3 separate regions of the Homo sapiens genome follow, and regions 1 and 2 are each linked to region 3. Evidence: fine-mapped expression QTL. A gene starts in region 3. Each other region holds a variant in brackets. All regions are shown on one strand. Distances are between the middles of the regions. Region 1 overlaps GCNT4 (glucosaminyl (N-acetyl) transferase 4). Region 2 holds the start of LOC105379040 (a long non-coding RNA gene). Region 3 holds the start of GCNT4 (glucosaminyl (N-acetyl) transferase 4).

The links.
Region 1: its variant is fine-mapped to the expression of GCNT4 in whole blood (TOPMed, PIP 0.93).
Region 2: its variant is fine-mapped to the expression of GCNT4 in lung (TOPMed, PIP above 0.99).

Annotation. Positions count from the first base shown.
Region 1 is chr5:75,020,390-75,028,574 of GRCh38, reverse strand. GCNT4 (glucosaminyl (N-acetyl) transferase 4) reads left to right here. Exons shown (of 4, transcript NM_001366737.1): 4 at 1-3,229. Among named protein-coding and RNA genes, the nearest start is that of GCNT4, 28 kb to the left of the region's middle. The variant G/T (reference allele first, on the strand shown) is at 4,655.
Region 2 is chr5:74,944,553-74,952,737 of GRCh38, reverse strand. LOC105379040 (a long non-coding RNA gene) reads right to left here and starts at 4,571. Exons shown (of 2, transcript XR_948485.3): 1 at 4,348-4,571. The variant A/G (reference allele first, on the strand shown) is at 4,302.
Region 3 is chr5:75,048,352-75,056,536 of GRCh38, reverse strand. GCNT4 (glucosaminyl (N-acetyl) transferase 4) reads left to right here and starts at 3,979. Exons shown (of 4, transcript NM_001366737.1): 1 at 3,979-4,108; 2 at 4,310-4,368. RefSeq lists an enhancer at 287-877 and silencers at 2,723-3,092, 3,213-3,262, 3,483-3,732.

The DNA.
Region 1 (8,185 bases), 28 kb after region 3:
TATTTTAAAAGGTGTCCAAAATTCCATACACAAGGGAAAGTGATCTAGCCTTTGATGTTATTAGCCTGCAGTTGGCTAGGTTTTTTTAATATTTGTTTTTGCTTGTAATCTCACTGAGCCAAATCAGAGATCTTAAACATTCAGTCAGTCATCAAACATTATTGAGCACCTAACTATATGACAGGCACTTTTTTAGAGACTGCGGCTTATCCTCATCATAGCAACCTCGGTATCTTTAAGTTCTCCACATAACAGTCAGGATTCTACTGAAGAAGCTTTTGAAGTTTGTGGTAATCGTCTGATCATATAAACCACCCATTTCAGAGTAGTGTTTAAGTACTGTGACCAACACTCCACTTGTCTCTTAACTCAGCTTTCAAGACATTTCTTAACCATCAGAGCAGAGGAGGAAAGACTCACTACCTCAGAAAAATCTCAAAGAATAGTCCAATTTCCTGCTTGCCAAAGCATAATCTGCCTTTTGGTGCATTACTTGGTCAATTCAGGGTTGAGGAGACTGTTGGGGGGCATTTATAATGTATGAAAGTTAAGGAAGGGGGTGAGGATGTGGGTTGGGACAGGTAGTACCTAAAGAGGAGCGAAGGGATTTATACAACATTTTTATCATGTTACAAAACAGTATCATGAATGGCCTCCTTTTTAGTTCAACTGTTTCTTTAAAATGCATTTACTGATTAAAAATAAGAACTGACCAATAGCTCCAAGTGTCACACACCAGAACATTAAGCCTAAGTCCTCAATTCATAAGTTATCATTCTAGATAAGTTTCTTTACAATGGAATACTTTCTGTGGAATCATTATAATTCTGTTGTATGGAACTATCAAGCTAAGAGTCACTAAACTTTCTTCAAAAGGTTGTGTGAAATATGACAGCTTTCTAAATTAATTTGTATAGTCATTTAAAATTTTTTCTTCTCTGGCAACTGTCCAACTGGAATCCAGATTTAAAGTGATAAAAGCTCTAAGTTTCTTGCAGTCTTTTTCTCAGCTTAGTTCCAGAGAGAAAAAAGCTAATTTTCCTAAGGACACAGCAAGAATATTCATTAAGGATATTTTCTAAAACCCACACTTGAGAAAACCACCCAATGAGTCAAAAATATATATATATAATATATATTTTATATATATGTAATATATATTTATGTTATATATTATATATAGAACAATTCCATTACATATATAATATATAAATATATATATTATATATACATATATTGTATATGAATATATATTATATATACATATAATTATATATATATAAATATATATTATATAACATATAATGAATATATATTATATATATAATGGAATTGTTCTGGAAGTAAAATGGGGTAGGAATGGGGTTCTGAGAATAGGCAATAACATTTTCACCAGTCTCTTGGGAAATTGTAGAACTCATGTAAAAATTTCTTGGTCATGATATGTCTCAATGGCAGCCTCAGTAAATAAAAATGTAGCCTCAGATATTATATTTAAAGATGTAGTAAATCTAGCCCAAAATAGGACAATTTGGAAGATTTAAGTATTACATATTTTTTAAATGTCTGTGTTCTAAATGTGAAATGCACTTTGCTCATTTTAAAGTTCATAATACTAACTGCCAACTGACACCACTTCTCGCTCCCTTTCTTCTCTTGAACTCATTTTTCTCCCTTTTTATTTACCCCCTTCAAATTACTTCATTCTTTGGAAATAACTATTACCAAGCCCCATTCTTCAAAATAAGTAAACATTGTATAGAGCCAAGTTCTGCAAAAGATCCATACCAGTTCACTCGTGTGCGACTGTGGACAGGTAAGTCACTTTGGTCTCTATGAACCTCAGTTTTCCAGATCTTTGAAATGAGCACTTGGATGCCTATCCTTGCTTCCACACAAGTGTTTTTTTTTTTTTTTTTTTTTTTTTGTGAGAATCGATTGAAATAGTATATGAAGTGGTTTGAAAATAGGTACAAACTATTGACATTTCAATGTCAGAGAGTGATACCTGTAGTAGTATAGGCAAAGGTCCAACCCCATCGAAAGGCTTAAACATTTACCTTTTCTGAAAAACTATTGAAATATAAAGAGAGTCCCCAGTCACAGGGGCAACTTCTGTAACCAAATCCAGATCTGAGGAAACTCCTGTAACCCCATTTGGGGTTTCTTTCTAAGCCAATAGGGTTACAGGTTGGTACAGTGACACATTGAGAATGGGGCTACAAATACTTTTCCCACCATCTAGGATGAAATACACGAAATCCTGTTGAAATCTTGGTTTTTATGCCTTTGCTCATCAGAATAAACGTAAATGCTGAAAAACAAATAACCTCCTGATCCACTGTCTTGCCTCCTGGTGAGAAATGATTCTATCCCCTGTTTATTGGGAAATTTCCAAAGTTGTTCATCACTTAAATGCCGTATTCAAAGGGAACATGGAAGGATGAAGCGGAGAAAGTGCCTTCGAGACATTCACACATTTCTCTGGACTCAGTCTGTTAACATATCAGGGAGCTTGTCAGATCACACCTTTTTGCCTTGGAAATCCTACAGATTTCCTGTACGCCTTCATATCTGATTCTTCCCTAAAACCTTTGGGTATGATTTCCTCCCTGGTCTTGATAATGTCCTGCAGTCTGTGTTTTATAATTATTCTTTGTATTTATTGAATCTAGACTTTAAGTTATTCAGAGATCAGACCAGAACCTTAGAGTTTCTAAACTGTATGTGGATATTAAATAATATTAATAATGAAAGAGCTACCAAAATAGTCTATATTGTGTGAACAATCTCTTGGGATATTAGACGTGTTTAAAGACCAGTGTTGCTGCTATTTTTAATATTTTGGTTAATTTAAGTGAAATGTACATATTTTAATTTGAAGATTTATCTTGCCCATCAGAATGTGAAGATATACTTGCATATATTTTGACATATTTCATGGAAAATAAAAATGATAATCCACTTTGTGAGTGTAAGTGAATGTATTCATATGTATGTTATTATAAATGATTTTTGTTTGCACTGATGATGAAATGAGAGTTTTGGGGGCTTTTTATACATTTATATCGACTGGTCTCTAAATCTCCTATTTTGTTTTCTTATCATTTTTGAAATACAGTTCCCATTACATGAGTTTTAAATAGATTGGTGTTTCATTTTGTATTATGCTACTACTAGATGTTGATTCTCTGGTATTGTAAAATAAAATGTGCTCCAAAAACCCAAACCCTTGGACTTTATGAGCTTTCCTTTCTCTGGTTTTGCTGATTCCCCACAAAGATTCTTTCAGTTTATGGCACTTGCCCCTTATTTAAAGAGCAGAGTTTATTTCACTTCAGTGTAAAAGAAATTCAGCATGTGTATTATACACAATATAGGCACATGAACTTAAGCCATTTAATTTGGTAAAGTCTCAAAGAGTCTTCCAGGATTTACCTGTCTTCCTCCTACTTCAGGTTGGTTTCTCCTGTAAGATTAATAAGATAAATACTCTTGTTTGCTTGATTACTTTATGGAAGTAGTTTTCAATAGGGTAGGTTGAACTTTTTATCTCAGGTCCCTCACTTCCTGGAAAATCAATATTCTTCCCTTTCTACCTTTTTTTTTTTTTTTTTTTTTTTTGAGATGGAGTCTCGCACTGTCACCCAGACTAGAGTGCAGTGGTGCGATCTCGGCTCACTGCAACCTCCGCCTCCCGGGATCAAGCAATTCTCCTGCCTCAGCCTCCCAAGTAACTGGGATTACAGGTGCCCGCCACCATGCCCAACTAATTTTTTGTATTTTTAGTAGAGACAGGGTTTCACTATGTTGGCCAGGCTGGTCTCAAACTCCTGACCTCGTGATCCTCCCAAAGTGCTGGGATTACAGGCATAAGCCAAGGCACCCAGCCAAGATTCTTCCCTTTCTTTGAAGGACTCCTGCCTTGGTTGTGAGCACGCAGACACCCCCAGTGTCCCCAGGCCTTGCTGGTGGAGGATTCCTGATGAGCTTCTGCTCTGTTCTCCCAGCTCTACTGAGCTGAGTATTTGTTATCATCAACCCCCACCCGCTGAGAAGCTCCCTGGCCATTTTTCTTTCACCATTTCTAAACCCATAACAGTCACCAGCCTACCCAGTATGTAGATATGCCAGGGGTTTGCATATTTCACTCACAAATCTCAATCCATCTCAAGGAATTTGGGGCATTTGGGGAATCTTCAACCTAAAAAAATAAACACTATACTCAACCTAAGGTTAATTCTAGCTCTTACCAAGCTGGACAACTGTGCAAATTCACAGTAATTTCAGGAACAGGGGACTATTTTTTGGTGCCAGTGGTGGTGAGGCAGGTCTATACACAGCATCATATTAAAGACTGATTTGATTCCTACATAAGTTTCATATTTTTTTGTTCCCATTGGCACCTACAAATCTACACCTAAATTGGGACAATTGGCTTCTAGTTACATGAAACTGATTATGAGGAAACTGTGGCAAGAGAGAATGAATAGATGATTGTAAATTTGTTCTCAGTACTGGAAAAAAAATCTGGTGATGCAAAACAAACGGCTTCAGAGACAGATGATCAGGGTGTTAACCCACGTGGACACACCAAAGCCACAGGAAGACTCTTCATCGGGCCTTACATACAACCTTCCCACAGAGCAGCAAA[G/T]CACGCCCTCCTGGAGCACCCTCGGTTGAATCATGCATAAGACAAACAGCCAGAAAAGAATCTCAGGGAAAATCATGGCCAGGAACCTGGGTAAATTTATTTTTTTGTTCTTCTTGTTTCTTGTTTTGTTCTTTGTTGTTTCTCATAGAACAATAAAGGAAATTAAACAGAAACCACGTATATTCATAATTCTAACATCCTGACAAAAGCATTATAGTTCTCTGAATGCTCTTATCTACATACACGTGTTTTGACATTTGCCCGCACTGCCAATATTTTTACAATCACTCTGCCATGTTGCTACATGGTCTTTATGGCTATGTAATGGTCATACCACAATTCACTCAGCCTCTACTTTACTGTAGGACATTTGAATTGTAAACTACTTTTTTTTTTTGCTGTCATAAATAACAGTGCTATGAACAGTGTTGTTCGTACAGCTTCTCCTTGAATTACTTCCTTATGATGCATTTCCATGAGAGAAATTATAATCCTGAAGAGAATGGAGTTTTTAATTGATTGTTTTTCATGTATGTTTGTTATAAATCAACTTCTCAGAAACTGTGCAGGATGCTTGGTTGATGTATACAACTACAGCCTCTACTTATGTGAAATTGTATTCATTTATTCTGATAAATGGCTCTTCAGATTCTCAAAGTAAGCCAAGACTTTTGCCTAAAACAAGGAAGTAGTTTTTCCTCTAGCAGATAAAAGATGGTGTTTTAATGCATGGGTAGTAAAGAGCTATTTCAGAATAATGTTCTTAAAGGCTTAACTTTGATGACTGACTCCATTCCAGGAAGGATCTAGAAGTTGCTAGTTCCTTCTAATATCCATTCTTTCTGGCATCCCTGGTTATATTCTGAGCAACAATGTGACCAGCTGTTAATTCCCAGCTTCCCTTTCAACTATGGGGTGGTGGGCAAATGAGTTTAAAGCCTAAGTCACTGGGTGGGACATCTGAGAGTGCGCTTGGAAGGTAATTTACCTAGCTTGCCTTCTCCCCATCTCTCTTGCTTTTTCCTGTGCCTAGAATGTTTGTTATAGCTGAAATTTCAGCAACCATTTTAAAACCATGAGGATGGGAGTTATATGGCAGGGACAGAGTGAAAATATGACATCTGAATCATCCAAGACTACCTACCTGCAGTCTCCTTTTATGTAAGGAAAAACTTGGTATGTGCTTTAAGCCACTGTCATCTCAAGTCTCTATTACTAACAGCTGGACATGATCCCTAACTTACACAATGTTTGTCTAGGACACTGGTTTTCAAACTCCAGTCTGCATCAGAATCATCTGGAGGCCTTCTAAAACACAGATTGCTCCCCGCCTTTCCCTCTTTCTCATTAAAGGGGAGGGAGATTTGCATTTCTAACAAGTTCCTAAGTGAGATTGATGCTGTTCTAAACTATGCTTTGAGAACCACTGTTAGGATATCTTTCCTGAACATTATTTCAACATTGCAAGCATTAGGCTGATTTTAATATTTAGAAACCACCAAATTTTGCAATAAGCATACATACCTCTTGATCCTAAGACACTATAGTTAAAAGTTCAGAAATATTTTATATGCTGTTTTATATGCTTTCTCTACATTGTTGAAGAGGTAGCTATCTATATTTTTAAAATAATGACCAAATTTGATGCATTTCTGTAACTATAGGTCCTCCTAAAATTGTTTTCAACCGCATGGCTGCCATACTTGTAACTATTTTATAAAATACAATGAAAAACAAATGAATTTTGGAGGGTGTGAGTAACCTGAAATCATGGGGGTGAAATCTCGAGTTCAGACGTATGTGTAATTCTATAAAACAAAGATGTATGCTAGTGAGATGGCCTCTACCCAGCTAAGAAAAAATTTCCATGGGAAAAAAATTATGAACTCTAAGGAGAATACAAAGTGGTGCAGGTGTAGCTTGGCTAGAGATAGAGTTTACATACTCAGGATCGTGTAAATGTTAAATATTGACCTAATCAATGCTACTGATATAATTTACAGGCAACATGAGGGGATAGAAAGGATGAATATGTTGGGTAGGAGTGTGGGTGGGTGTGAAAGACATCAAAATCATCTCAATGATCGGACTAGGTAGACAATGCCTGTAACTGAAAAACCAAATAGAGGAATAGAAAGATGTCACTCCAATTTGTGGAAGCAAAACCAAAAGAACCACTTCAGAGAGTTACTAGTCACCTCCAAGGAAAGGAAAGGGGGAATGCTGATTCTGTTTTGCAACAAGCCTTGCAACCAGGTCTTTAAACTTTGAAATAAAAACTGGGGAAACAAATAATTAACTGGTAAGGAAAAAGACATGATCTGTGATCAGACTGCTTGTAATCTAATAGCTAGTGCAAAGAACCAGAAACCTTATAAGGGTGGCTAGTGTTTCTGTCTACTCAGCCCTTCTTCCATCCCAGAATCTTCAGAGCACAAAGAGCCCTCCTGGCTACTGAGGTGGTCACGTGACCCAAGCTGGGCCAATTACAGCCTCTCACAGCCAAGGCCACACTAATTGGTCTAAGGAGTGGGCGCCTGATCTAAACGGGGCTAATCAGGGCTCTTGGGACTTGTTAAATTCCTGCCAGAGAATAAGAACCTCTTGTTCCTTTTTCTTTTTTAATCACAAAACATAAGGATGTGGGCTTGCTAGCCCAGCACAGCTCTCTCTGTGTCCACACCCCACTACTTGGACAAGTTTGTATCAGCGAATTAATGTTCCAAAAGGAACAGGGAAGAGAAAGACAATGACAGAGGGGGTCCTCGAGATGTTCAAGGCAGTCAATCAATCATTGGTGACACCAGCTCCACCTGCCCTTAGGTTCATTTACACAGCCCAATTCAATCTCTCCTTTTTGTGTGTTTACACAAAATTAAATTAAAGTTCACTTATGGTCATAAAAACTACCTTGTAGTCATAATACACAGTGGAATACCAAACAAAACTTATGGAAAGTTTCAAGCAAACACAAACAGAGAGAGAGAAGAGCATGATGAATCCCAACATCCTCATCACTCAGACCCACTATTGTCAATATTTTGACAATCCTATTTCATCTATCCACCCCTTCACCCCATTTTCCCACAGAAATATTTTAAAATAATTCTAGATATCAAATTATTTTACTTGTTAATAATAGATTGAACCATATGAAACTGCTGTTTTTGTAGGTCAGAAGTGGTCAACTATTGGCAATATTCTGTGTTCTGACCTAATATTTCAACAGTGTCAGGTCCACGGCCACGACTATGCCAAATGTCCTGCTTGGGGTTAGATTCCAGCCTCAGCTGAGGTCTGAGGCAAGTGGGTGGATGGGCGAATAGCTGAAAGAACACTCGGGGGGCTGTAAGTAGGTGAAATGTAATTTTATTCAGCAGCTCTCTCATCAGCAGCTCTCTTACACTGTCCACCTGTCTGCTCTGGCTCTGTGGCTCCTGCCACTCCCATGCTTGCAGCTGCACTCCCTGGCCTGCAAGGCCAGCCACAGGGTCAGCAGCCTAACTCTTTCCCTCTGGGCACAAGCCAGTT
Region 2 (8,185 bases), 100 kb after region 3:
CCCTCCCTGAGGAATGGTCAGTTCAGCTGAAGTCCAGTGCTGGGTTGTTGAAGCAATCCCTGAATTTTTATTTGATTTCCATTAGGGACAGTTTTAGCCTGAGGCCCCTGGCTGTGAAGTCACAGCCCTTTGGGAAGTCTCACCCGCCTTGGCTGATTAGTGGGCTGCTGAAGAATCACGTTTGTTCTGAGTCCCTGGATTGTTCCCATCCCCTTGAACCTGAATGATTTGGTTGCTTTTTTTTTTTTTTTTTTTTTTTTTTTACTTTGAGTTAACGAGAGGGGCTATGCTGAATACAGCCAATGACAGAAATAGAAGTCATTCATGTCATTCATTCTGGTGAACAGGCAGGATTCCAACCACTTTATTTGTGCAAGTATAAACAGGATTGATGTGATAGTCAAGATAGAATGAAAAAAAATAAGATTACTGATTATTGGGATAGGTCCAAAATGCTGGCTTGCCTTCAAATAGGCCCCCTCCTTAGTTCATGTTAAAATGCAAATTCCCAAGGAAGGAAAATACTTACTAATAGGAAATCACATTTAGTGAGCCATTCCCATTTGCCAGCCTTTATGCTGGGAGCTTTACATGAATGATCTCATGTAAATGTCACAACAGACCCAGGACTACTGTCATTTTACAGACAAGGAAACAGCTACAGAAGGCTTCCATCTGTGTGGTGAAGGTTACTCAGTGGTCAGAGGGGCAGCCAGGGTGGGAACCTGGGCAGCCAGGCTCCAAAGTTCATCCTCTTTACTACCACCCTGAACAATCTCCCAAGTGCTTCTATAAGATTCATTCATCCTCTAAAGCTTTATGCCAGATGTGCTGTGGATAAAACAAAACTTAAACACAAAGTATGCAGAGCCAGCTAACAAGTAGAGAGGTGAAGACCTATGCAGAATATTAATAACAAGCTTTTGAATAGAACTATGTTCTAGGCAGTGTTCTAAGCACTTTATGTATATTAATTCATTTAATCCTCAAAACAAAGTTTGTGGTGGATACTATTGTTAACAAATAAACTGAAGCACAGTGAAATTTTAAAGAGTTCATTTGAGCAAGCTACAGTTTGCAAGTCAGGCAGTTCCAAACCAGAGGTGGTTGGGGAGATCCACCAAGAGAACACAATGGGGAGGCTTTTAGAGGACAAGCACAGAAGTAAAGCAAAAAAGATATTTTATTGGTTACAGTTATGCAGTTGCTTTATTCGGTCTATCTTGTTGGAAAGTTTAGTTATATAAGTTCATTGGCTGCTTCTGATTGGTTGAGCTTACATTGTGTTTTTCTTTAATATAGGCACCTAAAGGAAATAGCTCAAGGTAGGTTTTGCTTATGTTTGCAATTCAAGCAAACTCAAGCTCCTAAAGGGATGAAAATGTTGAGCAGAGCAGAAATAAAGACAGTGAGGGTGCTCTGGTACAGATGTGGTCACTCAGCATACTCAGCACTTAGCAATCTTTTGGGTGTGCTTGTTCAGCCAATGGCAAATTCACCCAGCACTTTTTTCATCCTTTCTACAGTGCTTCATTTTAAATTCTTTCATTCAACAGATGATCACTGGGCACCTGCAGTGTGCCAAGCCCAGTAAAGCCCACTGGGATGGAATGATGGAATAAGTTGAGGTACTCATGAGGACCCATGAAGAAACAGAGGACAGGCATTCACACTAGACTAGGGAGGTCAAAAATGGCTGGCTCAGCAGTCTTGAAAGATGGGTGGAAAACTGCCAAGCAGACGAAAGGAAAGACATTTTAGGCAGGAGGATAACCAATCCAAGACCCAGAGTTGTGAAGGAGCATCATATCAAGAGAGCTACATGGGCTGGGTAAGGTGGCTCACACCTGCAATCCCAGCAGTTTGGGAGGCCCCAGTGGGAGGACTGTTTGAGTCAAGGAGTTTGAGACCAGCCTGGGCAACATAGTGAGACCCCTGCCTCTATGAAACATAAAATAAAAATAGAACTACATGGAGCTGAGTGTGGTTGGAGCATTGGTGAGAAGCATGATATATAGGAAGAGAGAAAGAGAATTATGGGTGAGAAGGTAGGGAAGGTAGGCACGGGCTAGATCATGAGGGTGCTTAAGTGATGAACTAAAGAAATTTACATTTTTCCAGCAGACCACAGAAAGCCACTGGAAAAGTTAAACCAGGATGGTGAAGTGGTCTGATTTGCACTTTAGAACTTTGGTGGCTGCAGTGCGAAGGATGATTGGAGGTACAGGTCCAGGTAGAGGCATTCCAAGGCTTTGTAGTGACCAAGGATGGGGATGTGAAGCCCTCAGGAGGGCCAAAGGAATTCAGAGAAAACCCTGTCTCATGTTTTGCTGAAATCAGTTTCTTCTGTGTCTGGCATTTCTGTTGTTCCAAGTATTTCCCCCTATTTAATTTTGTTCCTAAATGTATTACACTTAGATGCAATCTTAGCGTCACTAAAAGTGGCACAGCCGGGCATTAAATGTGTCAGAATATGACACAGGAGGAAGTATCTGGCACCACCCGTGAAAACTCTTGCCTGGATCACTCTCTTAGTCCAACCAGCGGCCACAGGAAATGTGGGGACTAGAGAAACAAGCAACCATAAGGAAGCAATTAGCCAAAATTGGAACATGGGACATTCCACAGGACAAATGATCAGCTTCTTCAAGAAATTGCTGGCATGAAAGAGAAAGAGAGGATAACCATTATGGAATAAAAAAAGATTTAAAGTAATAACACAGTGCCATGTTTGAACCCTCGTTCAAGGAAACAAACTGTAAAAGCCATCTTTCTCCATTGGGGAAACTTGAATATGGACTAGGTGTCAGATGATATTGAGGAATTATTAGGATTTTTGTTAAATGTTGATGATGATGTGGTAGTTATGTTTTTAAAATATATATTGGGCTATTTCAGGTGAAATGACATGGTCTCTGAGATAAATACAATGAAAGAAATTTTATTTAATTGAAATGAAAGAAGATTGGCAAAACATTGATAATTTTTGGAGCCACTAATGAGTACTTAAATTATACTATTAGTCCATATGTTTGAAATTTTCCATAATATAAAGTGTGTGTGTGTGTACGTATGTAGTTAACTCTGCTCATTTTTCCACTATAAAATTAACATAAGCACTTTAAGGAAAACAAAAATATATCTATTAAAGAGTTAATTACATTCCTACCACTCTTCTAATACAACTACAGTCAGTATCCAGTAAATTTCCTTTCTTTTTTTTCTGTGCACACAATTTTTTTTTACATAGTTGGTGATAATTTTATATTTCAAATTTTATTCTTATTTTTTCACATCTTTCATTTTACCAGCTGGGCTTCATAACTGTGGTATGCTGGCTCTTGGGAGCTGACTGTGAGCACTTCCTCCCGGCTCTGCATCCAATGCTGTCACGTTGGTGGCTTGTAATTAATCATGGTGGAAATATTTAAACCATGAAAATCAGTAAACATTACAAGTCAGAGCTTTTTTCCTAAAGAGCTGGTTGTTAAACATTTACCAGCACATGGCTATTTATAACCACGTTTGTTTTTTTTTCTCTTTTTTTGAGATGGAGTCTCGCTCTGTCACCCAGGCTGGAGTGCAGTGGCGTGATCTCGGCTCACTGCAACCTCCGCCTCCCGGGTTCAAGCAATTCTCCTGCCTCAGCCTCTTGAGTAGCTGGGACTGCAGGCACATGCCACCATGTCCAGCTAATTTTTTTGTATTTTTAGTAGAGATGGGGTTTCACCATTTTGGCCAGGCTGGTTTTGAACTCCTGACCTCAGGTGATCCACCCGCCTCGGCCTCCCAGAGTGCTAGGATTACAGGTGTGACCCACTGCACCCGGCCTAAAACTGTAATTTTTAAAAGTGACCTATTAGCCCATGGAGTGATATATTATAGTGAAGTTTAGTTCTTACTATACGCCAGGTACTGAGTACTTTACTCACATTAGCTCACTTAATCCTAACGATGGACCCTATGAGGTAAGTGCTATTATCATCTGCATTTTACAGATAAAGAAATGGAGACAGAAAGAAGTGAAGTAAATTCTCATAGCTAAATGGTAGCAAGCCTAATGGGACTGGAACTCAGGTAGTCTTACTGCGGAACCTTAGCCAACACTGTGCTGTGCTGCTTTGTACCCCTGCTCCAGCCAACGACTGGGCAGCCACCCTCAGAGGCCAACACCACTGCTCCATGTATCATCCAGCAAGCGCAGAGAACTGCAAGGCCAGCATCCATCATCCCCTTTCTGCAACCTGAGGGCATGACTTGAGCCCAGCCCCCAGTAGCAGTTTGGCTTAAGTAGAATTTAC[A/G]TTATCCTCCCGGAATGCTGCTGTTCAACATAGCAAATGCACCCACCTGTTCTGCCTGCTGCTTAGCAGTCATAGCCTTCATAGGGTCACTTTCAGAGTCGAGATGTGTTTGGGGAGGATGGCGGCACACTCCAAGCTGCAAGAACTATTATGACTTCAGAGGCCGGATGAGTTTTGTTTTTTATCAGGGGCAAGGACTTCATGGGTGACTTCTTCCTGCTTCCTCCTGTTTGCAGTGTTTTACGGTCCTGCCTGAGAGACAGGAGTACTAGGCAGGATTCTATATCTGGTGTAGCTGTTCAGTTACTGAGTGATGACAGAGAGAGTCATTTGACCTCAGCAATGATCCTTTTGCAGAGTAGAGGCATCATAAGACCAGAGAGTTTTCAGAGCATTCAGAAGCTCTTGCAGGCAAGATGCTCTGTGTGCAATTTAGCTGACAGCCTACTCTCCTCTCTCGGGAACCAGATTTCACCTTGTTGGGGGCTAGGAGCACCCAAAATTCCTAGTTCTGTGTTCTCATATCACAGTGATAAGTAAGTGGTAGAAACAGCAATGGGGTTATTACTAAAATGTCTTTGAAGCTTGTCAGCCCAGCTTTGGATAAACAGCTGACATTAATCCAAGAATAGACTTTCATCAAGAAGCAGGAGAGGAGAAAGGTTGTCTTGGAGGGAGTGGGGATTTTATTATTATACGACTAAAATCATCAGTGAAACAGAAAAAGTTTACATCCCCTACATGCAAAGCTTTGCAACACCACAGGGACTCAATCAAATAAATGTCATTTTCACTCTAAGACCAAGGGAGAGGCTCTTGTAAACATCTAGGTTCTGTCCAGTTTAGGATTTCCCCTGATCTTTCAAATTCTCTAACCCATTAAAGTACCAAATAGAGATTTGACCAGAATTGGAACACAGCAGCAAATCTTAGGCCCTTTTCGGAGAGTGCTCCTGAGGAAGGACCTCAGGATGGGTAAACGTAGGAGAGAGAGGGAAGAAGGAAAAGAAAGACTCTAAAAGGTTTGAAAGGAGCCATTTACACTTAGGATGTGCTCCTCTCTCTAGACTCAGATTCACCTGAATGTTTTTGATGCAAGGGAAAGAAATAACTGAATGCTTCTGCAATTCCAGATTACTCCTTGGAATTGGAGGTGTGGTGAGGACTGAGACTCTGTGCCCCTACCCAGAGAGAAGTTAAGGAGAACAGATAGATTTGCGGCTTAAAAGGCAGCTGCCCTGGGCTCCCCTGTAGCACACTACTAGTTAATAGAAAGAAGATATAGGTGAAAAGCCCTGAATATAAGGTCTATATTGCCATGACTTGTTCTTTAGATGTTTAAATCATGTCTGATCTCTCCAAGTGGATCCATACCCTATTCTTTGAAATTCCATGTAGCACTAACAACATATTTGGGCATTCTTGGAGCCTCATTTTCCCAGTCTGTGCTCTCAAGTGATGAGGAAAAATTATGAAGACAATACCTTTGCATTTGCCTTTTCTTTTTTGATGAATGACTTTAAAAGACCAAACCTGAGTTCACCTACAGTGCAGTGATGAATTTTACACTTACGTGTGTGAACTTTGCCATCTTGTTCTCACATTGGCTCAGGCACGCAGATCTCTCAATACGTCCACCAAACGACTCTCTTGGGTAGCATGATGGCTGACACATGGCTAGCATTTAGTAGGGGACTCTGAGCAGAATCCTAGGTCATCAATTAGTAATGATTGGCAGGGCTGATATTTGACTACAGCTAATGGCCCTGAGGTCTCCAGGACTCAATGACTCATTCTCACCCTGACCTTTGCACTCTAGCAAATGTGTTTTTGTGTTCAATGGCAGTATTTCTTCAAGTCATCCAGAACAGTACATTATACTCATGCCCTGCTCATTTTATGCATACATTTTTTATTGATAAATAATATTTGTAGATATTTATGGGGCATATGTAATATTTTGAACATGCATATGATGTGTAATGATCAAATCAGGGTATTAGGGTATCCATCACCTCAAACATTTATTATTTCTTTGTATTGGGAACATTTCAACTCTTCTCTTCTAGCTATTTAGAAATATACAGTACACTGTTGTTAGCTATAGACACCCTATGCATTTTAATAGCAGACTGAGTTATGTTCCAAACCACAGGCTGTCTTCTCTCCTCCATATCATTGTAGTTTTTGCTGTGATTTAATTACATAGCAAAATTTAATCTCAGTTGAATTCACTAAGAACCTCTGACTCCCGGCTTGACCCAGGGAGATAGTCCATCCAACCCCTCAAGCCTAAGGTAGTTTTTAGTCAGGGTTACAAGGAAACCCAGTCAAAAGAGGCATAATCTTTCAGCTGCTACTGGAACGGGGAGTGAAGTGTCAGAAGCATCCTGGAAGGAGTGCACTCTTTTCTCAAGAGGACATGTGATGAGTCTTTAAAGTATTAATGTTGTACCCTGCAGGTCAATGGGTCAAACCACTTCCATTAGCTGGGCAGTGTAAGTTTGGCATCAGAGCATAAGGTTTTGATTGAATGCAATGATTTTTCCCTCTCTTATTTCCCTTTGGACCGGTGAGTATTATCACCTGGTGGTGGAATCCTTTCTCCACTTCCTCTTTGTTCTGCTCTCCAAGGGCTCAGTGTATAAGGTTTCAATCTGCTATTGTGATATGCATGCATTTTTTAACCTCAACTCAAGTATGGAGTGCACTGATATACCAGAGCGCCCTCCCCGACCACTGCCTGCCCACACACTTGAAACAAGTTTCAAAATTACACTCTGATAGTTCTCATTTTATGTCTCCACCTCCTCCTCCTCTTTTGTTGAATTTTCAATACCAGTCAAGACAACAGTATTAGTTTTGTGACTTACAAATAGATCACCTCTCATGACTGGTATCTACCCCCACTCCTTCTCTGTGATGTTTTCATCATCTTCTAGGTCTTACTCTTTCTTGTGCAAATTTTTGGATTTATCAATTACTCTGAAATAATTTGGAATTGTCAAATATTTATATATATATATCTGTAAAAATTCCTCAAAGGATTTCTCAAAATATCACAATATTTGATATCCTCTCTGCCACTTCATTTCTTTTCTCTGCCTCAAAGCCCCATATAGAAAACATTCTGAAAATATAATCACCAAAATGCAAATTCTATCCTTTCTGGAAAGTGGAATTGCAAGTAATTTTTTAAAGTGTATATTTTCTAATACCTACATATTTTTGTATAAAAATAGTATGTTTTAAAATGACCATCACTATATTTAATTAAGAGGTATTAGAGCTCAGAGCGTGATACCCCAAAATTTGGTACTTTGGCATAGTGGGTACTTTGGACTGAAGGAGGATGGAAGGGCCTCAGAAGTTAAGGTGTTCAAATATGATATTCTGGCATGTTAACTGTTTAAGCTAAAAACACCTGAAAAACAGCAGATGCCAGAAGATCACTTTGACCTTCATGCTGTTTCTTAAGAGCAGAAGATGAAATTCCAGTGTGGAAGACACTCTCCCTGTACTAGGAGGAAAGACAGCATCCTTATCTTCAGGGATGAAAAGTTAAAACCAAGAGAATACTGTAGACTTTGATAGAATCACTCTTATCTTTTAAAGCCTCTCCACACAAGTTAGTTGCTTCTTCACAACTTGTAATTCCTTGTCCAATTCAGTATATAAGTAACTCACTCTAACTGCTTCTTTGGGTCTTCATTTATGCATGAGGGCTCCCCTGCCATGTAAAACTTGTATTAAATAAATTTGTATGTTTTTCACCTGTTAATCTATATTATGTTAATTTAATTCTCAGACCCAGCCAAGACCCTAAGAGGGTGGAAGTGGAATTTTTCCATCCCTAGAAGAGCAAAAAATTCCCTCTGACCTTC
Region 3 (8,185 bases):
CACAGATGTGTTTGAATCACCCTCACCTTTGAGTGAAGTCTTGCAGCCGTATCCTCAGTGAATGTGCCCCTTTGGCTGAATTCCTTGTGTACAGCTGCCATTTGGTCCCTAGATTTTCATTTGGCTTCAGTTAGTTGGCTCTTAGTGACGCCTGTCTTTATGTTCTCAGTGCAAGGACTACTTCTGTAACTAGAGTTTCTTGGAGGGCAGGGGCTGTGACTTACACCTCTTTGCATCCTTAGCTCAGGCAATATGTTTTTATTAACAATGACTTTTGGAGACTGCACCAGGTTAAACAGCATTCTCTGAAAATTCATGTCCACCTGGAACCTGTGAAAGTGACCTTATTTGGAAATAGGGTTTTTGCCAAGTAATCAAGTTAAAATGAGGTCATACTAGATTAGGGTGGGCCCTATGTCCAATGACCAATATCCTTAAAGAAGAGGGAAATGTGTTTGCAGAGGACACACAGGAAAAGGCCAGAGACTGGAATGATGCATCTGCAAGCCAAGGAATGCCAGGAATTATCAGCAATCACCAGAAGCTAGGAGGGGGCACAGTGGGATCCCAGCCTTGCTAACACATTGATTTCAGGCTTCCAGCCTCCAGAGCTATGAGGAAATACATTTCTGTTGTTTTAAGTTGTGCAGTCAGTGGTATTTGTTAGGCAGTCCTAGGAGAATAACACAGGAATGCTGAGCACAATGAGCATGCTTACAATGTGGCAGAGACCATTCTGGGGCCACTACCATCTTTGGGCAACCCACTTTCAGAAGACCTGCAGGGCCGGTTACAACAAGTTTTTAAGGGATGAAAGAGAGTAACCTGGCCAAGCGCAGTGGCTCACATCTGTAATCCCAGCTCTTTGGGAAGCGAGGCAGGCAGATCACCAGGTCAGGAGTTTGAGACCAGGCTGGCCAATATGGTGAAACCCGTCTCCACCAAAAATACAAAAATGAGCTGGGCGTGCTGGTGTGCGCCTGTGGTCCCAGCTACTCAGGAGGTTCAGGCAGGAGAATCGCTTGAACCCAGGAGCGGAGGTTGCAGTGAGCCGAGATTGCACCACCTTACTCCAGCCTGGGAGACAGAGCAAGACTCCGTCTCACAAAAAAAAAAAAAAAAAAAAAAAAAAAAAAGCGTAACTTAAGGCAGTGAGTAGAAAGGAGAGGGAAACAGCTGGGTATGGTCTGAGAATAAAACAATCCAAAACAAAAATTGGAAACTTTATGATGAATAGGTTTTTAAGAAATAGTTTGCTTTAGGACAAAATAGTTGATTTGGAAGTTGGAAATAGAGGAGCAAGTGAGTGAATGGATATCCACTTTATGACATGATACACGCAAAATAATAAAATTGACCTCTTTAGGAGGAAGTGCATGTATTTCCTAGCATGGCTTGTTTGAGATGTGTAAGCTGTGGTTAATGATGGCTAGTGGTCCCTTTAAATTCCAGTCTTGGAGACCTCAGTGGTTAAGAGCATGGACACCATTCAGACCACCCACTTACTGGCAAGTTATGTCACCTCACCTGCCTCCCTCTCATCATCGGTAAAATCAGAATTAAAATAGCACCTCCCTCATAAAGTTGTGAGGATTGAAAGAGTTAATCCGCATAAATTGCTTAGAACAGTGCCCAGGGTGGATAATAGAAGCCTTAATTGTTTTTACCATCATGACTATCGCCATCATCATGTGCAAATGAGGGAGACCCAGGAAGTGTAAATTATTATTCCAGAAAGAGGCGGTCCCATGGGGAGAAAATGAAGGCAAAGCTGGCCATTTGCTTGAAAGTACGTCTGTAAAACGAATATTAAAACACTTGCTCTCCGAACACAGGGAGTTTTTAAAAAGGCGTGGGGGCTGGGGTAGACTTAAAGTCTCTCTACTGCTTTGGGCAGATTCCAGATTCTGGGAGTGAAGCATATGGGGACCCATGTGACCCTCCCTCTTTGAGATTCACTGGGTCCTAGGTCCTAGGTCCTACCCAGCTCCCCACCCAACAGCCATGCACATTGCAGGCCCTCAGTCAACACTGATTGACGCAAGGGATAAAGGAACAAACCGACTGGGATTGACTTGTCTGGTGCCACTCCCTGCCCTGAAAGGCAAGCCCTGGGAGCCCCCGGCCCCGAAAGGACGTGGAGCCTCGCGGGAGACTCCTGGAAGTGCGTGAATAGCAAGCACAGCGTGGTGCGCCCGCTTTACAAAGTTAGCATATTCACAAGAACCCGCTCGGAAGGCCAAGTCCTTGATGTCGGCCAATTGGTTAAGTGGCTGTGTGCTTTCTTTCCACTGCACTTATTCGGTGATCCCGATTGGCGTCCGCACAGCCGCCACCCTCACTCTCGCTTGAGGATAAAAAGCAAGCCGATTTGGCATGTAGGCACTGTTTGAAAAACAACTTTGCACTCTAGTTATTCGGCAAAAAGCTCCACCTTCCCACGCTGCTGATAATATTTCTCGCGGCTGCGTGGGACACTCCTCGTCTCACCCATGAGAGCGAGCTGCCTTCTGTCTGGTTGGGCGATTCCTGCAGGGCCTGAGCCTCCGCAGAGCCCGGCGTTCAAGGAGAAAAAAGGAGCCGCGGATGTGAGTTTGCTTCGTCACTGCCTTGTGAGCGACTTTGGGCAAGTTACTTAGCTCTCCTGACCTCAGATTTCTTGTCTAATGTGGGAGGGAACCGAACGTGGATGACGCTCCGGGCAGCGGCGGAGAGCCGAGATCACCGCGCGCGCCTGAGAACTTTGTCCGAAGCGCGGCCCGGGGACTGGGAGCGCAGGGCAGGGAGCTCCCTCTGCGGGAGCGCGGAGGCGCTCCTACTTTCTCCGCACGTCACGGGGGCCGCTCAGCGCTCTCCCACCCCGGGCCGGGCGAGAGCGGCTCCCCAGCAGGGCGACGGAGGAGCGCGGCGAGAGCGAGCCGCCGCGGAGAGCCTGGGAACCCAGAGCGCAACCCTCGGCCCCCGCCGGGGCGGCCTCCGCAGCCGCACGGACCCCGCGTTCGGGGCTGGCCCGCTCCCTCTCGTAAGTCGACTTGGCCACGCGGGGGAGCGAGGGTCGCCCGGGGCTGGAGATGTTAACCCGGTCTCAGCCTCGTCTCCGCCGGGACGCCCCGACCCTCTGCTCCTCACGACTTTCGTTTTCCCGCCGGGGAAAACTTCGGCGCCGCGTCCATCTCCAGGCGGCAGGCGGGGGCGCCCTCTCGGAGCCGCGCGGGGAACCGGGCTGAACCCCGGCCTCTCTCCGCGCCTGCAGGAGCCCCGGGGCCACCAGAGCGCGCGGCGGACGGACACAGCGTCACGGGCCGGGTGGGCGACCCGGCGCGCGCCTAGCAGACGCCGCAACTTCGGGGCTCCCCGCGGCAGCCGCCGCCTGCGGCCAGACGCGGGGAAGTTCCCCGAGGCCAGCGGGGGGAAAGGGCAGCGGGCGGCGGGCGCGGAGCGTGTCCTGGATAACGGGCGCGGGCCGCGGAGCCGGCTTCCTGGGCTCGCGGGCGGAGTGGAGCCGCCAGGCTGGAGTCGCGAGCGCGCCGGCGCCGGGCTTTCCCGGGACTCTCCCCAAGTGCCAAGAAGCGGCTCGTGGGCGCGCCCTTGCCGGGAGCAGGGGCATCCCGCCGTCCTGGCCCTTCAGAGCCCAGCGCCGCCCAGCCTGGCCCGCGCCGCTGCGAGGCGCAGGGGGCCCGGGGGAGCTACTGAGCCCGGCTTCGTGACGCTTGCCTTTCGGAGCCGCTTGCCGCTTCTCCGCAGCCCTGGACCAGAGGGGACAAGCGATGCTGCCCGAGCCCCCGCCCCTGGGCTTCGGGACAGGGACGCGGGGCGCCTGAAAGGACTGCTACCGCGGCTTCTGCGCCAGGGCAACCGGGGCTGGAGGGGGCCTCCGAGTTGTTCTTTGGGGGCGGAAGCTGCGGGCCGCGCCTCCCAGGCCGCGCCCTTCCCAGAGACCAGTTTCTGGGCTTTTTAAGGTCAAGTTTTTTGTGCCGCAGAGCGGGCCGGGATCGTCTGCCTGCGAGGTGGCGGTGCCTACCACAGCGGGTCGGGAGCTTCTGGGATCCGAGCCGAGAAACGGGACGCTCGAGTCCATTTGCAGTCTTCACGTAGGAAACGGTGCTAGGTAAACGGGGCGAGTGGGTGTTTTGTAAATTTAAAGACTCAGCTTTCCCTGACGGGGAAGTTTTCCGAGTCACGTAGTCTGGGAAACAGTGTATTGTCCCCTCGTTGGGCAGGCAGAGAGGCGATATTGGCCTTGGGGCACTTTTTAAATTCATTTTTTTCTTTTTCTTTTTTTTTTTTTTTTTGTCTTTAAAAATGGAAGAACAACAAACCAGAAGATTAACAGAGTTGGGGCTAATATAATGCGTTTAATTGTCTCATGTGAGTAGACAGAAGTCGCCCTTTTTGATCTTGCATTCATAAAACATGTCCCTATTAAAGCATCAATAAGCCTAAAACATTCTAGAAACTAACAGTTCATTCTGACAGCTTTTGTTGATAGTCTCTTAAGGAAGTAAAATCTTTAAAAGTGAAAAAGTGAATCATTATAGAGAGCATATCCTATGTTGCACTTTCTAAGGATCCAATTTTGTGTGAGAAATGACCAGTTAAGATGTGTTGTTGATTTATCTCTTTCTGGTATCAGGAGAGAAACAATAGCCAAGGAACTGTGTGGCCGCTGAATTTTCTATGGGGAGACTGAAAGGAGTTTCCTGCTGCGGGGTGGTGGTGGGATGAGAAGGTTTATACTCTTTTCTTTGGGGGAAAAAGTTTATACTGATTTGCTAAATGTCACATCTCCTGCACAGAGGTAGGTGGGGTGAATGGCATAGTCGGGCAGTCAGAGTTAGCACTTTATGGCACCTGGCCAAGTGCCTTCAAGATAAGCAGGCCATAAATACAGGTGCTTCCCAAACTGACTTTGAATGACCTATGGTTGTTTTCTAGGAAGGGAGAGGGAGAGAGAGCAGGTAGAGGGCCCTGTACCTGACGGTGCTGTTTCTGCCTCATCCTTGACCCACGGGTGCTGGGAGCATGACCTGGTGACCTGGGGCTTATCACAGCACCACATAGGAGAGGTAAAACGGAGTCAGCTTCAGGGGATTTCCTTCTTAGGCTACAAGGCGGGAAGAAAGCAGTGAGACAGTAAAAATGAGCAAAGCAAGGCTGAAAAGTGAGTTCTTCAGGCCACCTGTGTTGAGCACTGGCTGTGAACCAGGCTGTGAACTGTCCCAATGTGAACAGCGCATTGGCTGCTGTGAGGCGCAGATGTGCTGCAGCTCACTGCATCTGTGCTGAGGCAGGAGGCCTTGCTGGGGAGACTGAAGGTGGGCTCAAGGATGAGTGGGAGCTGTGTAAACTAAGCAGCCATGGGGGAGGGGAGAGGTGAGAAAGGGGAGTATTCCCATCCCCGGGAATGGTGTGTGCTGAGACCAGAGGAGAGGAGAGCCTGAGAGGTGGAAGAAAAGACAGGTTCAGTATGACCTGAGGGGAGGATGGAGAATGGCACCGGGGAGGCCAGCAGATACCACTGCCAGGTGATGCCAAGGGGCATTGTGGCGAGTGGATCCTCAGGACAGTTTCACACCTGATAGTACGCAGATGAGATATGGATTAAAAGCAAAACAAAACTCCAGCTGCCCCGTGGAGAATGGACTTGAGGAGCCCCTAAGTAGACAGGGCTGGGTCAGAGGGTGCAGGAGGCCTGGCAGTTGAGACTGAGGTAGTGCCAGTAGGGATGACACGTTGGGCGGATTCAAGGCCGGCTCTGGAGAGACCTGGGGCTGAGTTTTGTGTAGGGTGTGAGAGCAGATGAGTTTTGTGTAGGGTGTGAGAGTGCAGCGTGACTCCCTCTAAGCTTGGGTGCTGGTATTTACGGAAACAGGGAACATTGGAGGAGGAAAGACAAGTTTGGTTTTATTGGGTCTGGGCAGCTTTCGAGGCTCCTAAGTGGAATGGCTTCCCTAGTGGCCACATAGTGCACTCGCTGGCTGACTCTCCACAGATGGTGGTCCTCTGTACGAGGGGTGTGGTCTGAATCCTGGGGTGGATGGGGTGGGGCGAGGCGGTGGTGTCTGAGGACTGGAAGCTGCTCCCAGAGTGAGAGGTGGGACGGAGGGCTAGGTACTTTAAGATGAGGGAGCCTTAGACATATGTGAATGCGATGGAGCGAGTTGGAAGGAGAAGCTGAACACACAGGATGTCTGGATCCCCTCCCCCTTGGATTGCGATGGTATTTTGATATCAAGCTCATGTAATGTAAACTGTCAACATCTTACAGAAACAGTGTTTTAAAGCACGTGTGACTGCGAGTGATTTACTTCACAGATCATACAAATGTAATGTTTAGGAGAAACATGGATGATAATCACGCAACAGAGATGCAGCATGGCTAAGAGCAAGGCCTCGCAGTGAGACTGCTGAGCTCCTGGGTCTGACTCTTGTCACTGCCTAGCTTAGGACCAGGCCCAAGCTTCCTGACATTCCTGTCTCAGTTTCCTGGTCTCTGAAACGGCACCACACCTAAGGGGTACGTGCTCTACAGCACCTCCTTGTGGGCTGTTGTAAGGATTGCCTGTGTGCATTATGCAAGCACATAAAGTGCTCAGTAAACCTTAGTGCTGGTGGTTTTATTATCATGATGCCATTTCTATCATTTCTGGTTGTAGAATCTGAAACGTAGAGAATGTTGAGAACCTGTCCAAGCCCATACAGCCAAGGAATGGCAAAGTTAAGGCCAGGATCCGATTTGCCTGACTCACAAGGCAAGGCACCTTCTACTTAATGTGTCAACAAGTGTCAGGTGCTCGATGCTGTATAAAATTAACTGTAATAAAGGGATCCAGTCACTGCTTGCCAGAGTGTAGTGAAGCAAAGCAGATAACATCAACATTGAGGCTTACAGACTTTTCTCAAGCAATTTAGAGATGTATGTTTTGTATTAATTTGCATTACTTTGCATGTCATTTATATGCATTCCCATATGCTTGTAATTTTCCTAGTGGGATCTAAAGACTGAAGCTTCAAGTATATAAGAGAAAAGAAAATTAATCAGGAATTGAATGCAGCCGTTTCCATCCTAATAGATCTCTGGGGATGGTGGGCTCAGTGTGGGCATTTGGAGACAGGATTGGATCAGTATTTACTATTTTAGATGTGGGGAGCCAGATATCATTTGATAAAGGTAGCTCACAACTTAATATGTTATGAAGTTTGATCTGCTGAACGTAACAGAAAAATACAGGCAAAGTGGAAGAAGACCAGAGGAAAAATGTCTACCATATAAGATGCCAGAAAATGAAGCAGAAACAGAAGTCTGCTTTATGAAGCTGAACTAATAAGAAACACTAAGGGGCAGAAAGGAAAGATTGAATTTCTGCTAAGCGATATGAAATGTTAAAAAGAACAATCTTAATCACAAATGTGTGAGGCTTCAAAACCAGTAAATTCTTCCCAATGTGGATTTACTGAGAAACAGGCCATCGGGTCTTAGTGGAATCTTAGAACTACAGAGTATTACAAAAACAAACTACAATTTTGTTACTTAGAGCAGCGGTTCTCAAAGTGTGGCCTCAGGACCAGTTACATCAGCATCGCCTGGGAACCCGTGAGGCTCAGCAATTTGTGTTTTAATAAGTTCTTTAAATATTTAGAGCCAGCTTTCACTCCTCTATTGAGTCATTACTTCTTCAGCTTTAACCTTTCCAGGTCCGTCTTGTGGTCACTAGCTTCTCACTGGGCTGCTTAACTTCTATCAGTTACTACCCAGCAGAGGGATGTAGCCAGACATGAACTCATTTCTCAGGGTGTCTGCTCAGTACAGAGCAGAGTGGGTTGGTCCCTTCCTTAGTCCCAAGGTCTAAACTGTGGAAATGCTTTCCTTTTTGGGTGGTACTATTCATAGAAACAAGGATTTGCAGCCTGCATTCAGCTTTCGCATTCTGCAGCTTTGTGGTTCGCATGCTGTCCAGGAGCACGATGGTTTTGGTTTTGTTTTTGTTTTGCTGCATTTTGCTTTCTTTTGACAGTCTCGAACTAAACTGTGACTCGTGCCAAATGTATGGTCAGCCAAAACACTGAACTGTCCTCTAGAGATGCTCTTGTCAAACCACGTTTCTCCACGAACCACAATTCTCCATGAACCAGGGTTCTCAATTAACGAATACAGTTAATTTTTTGCACGTGTTAGTTTTGTACT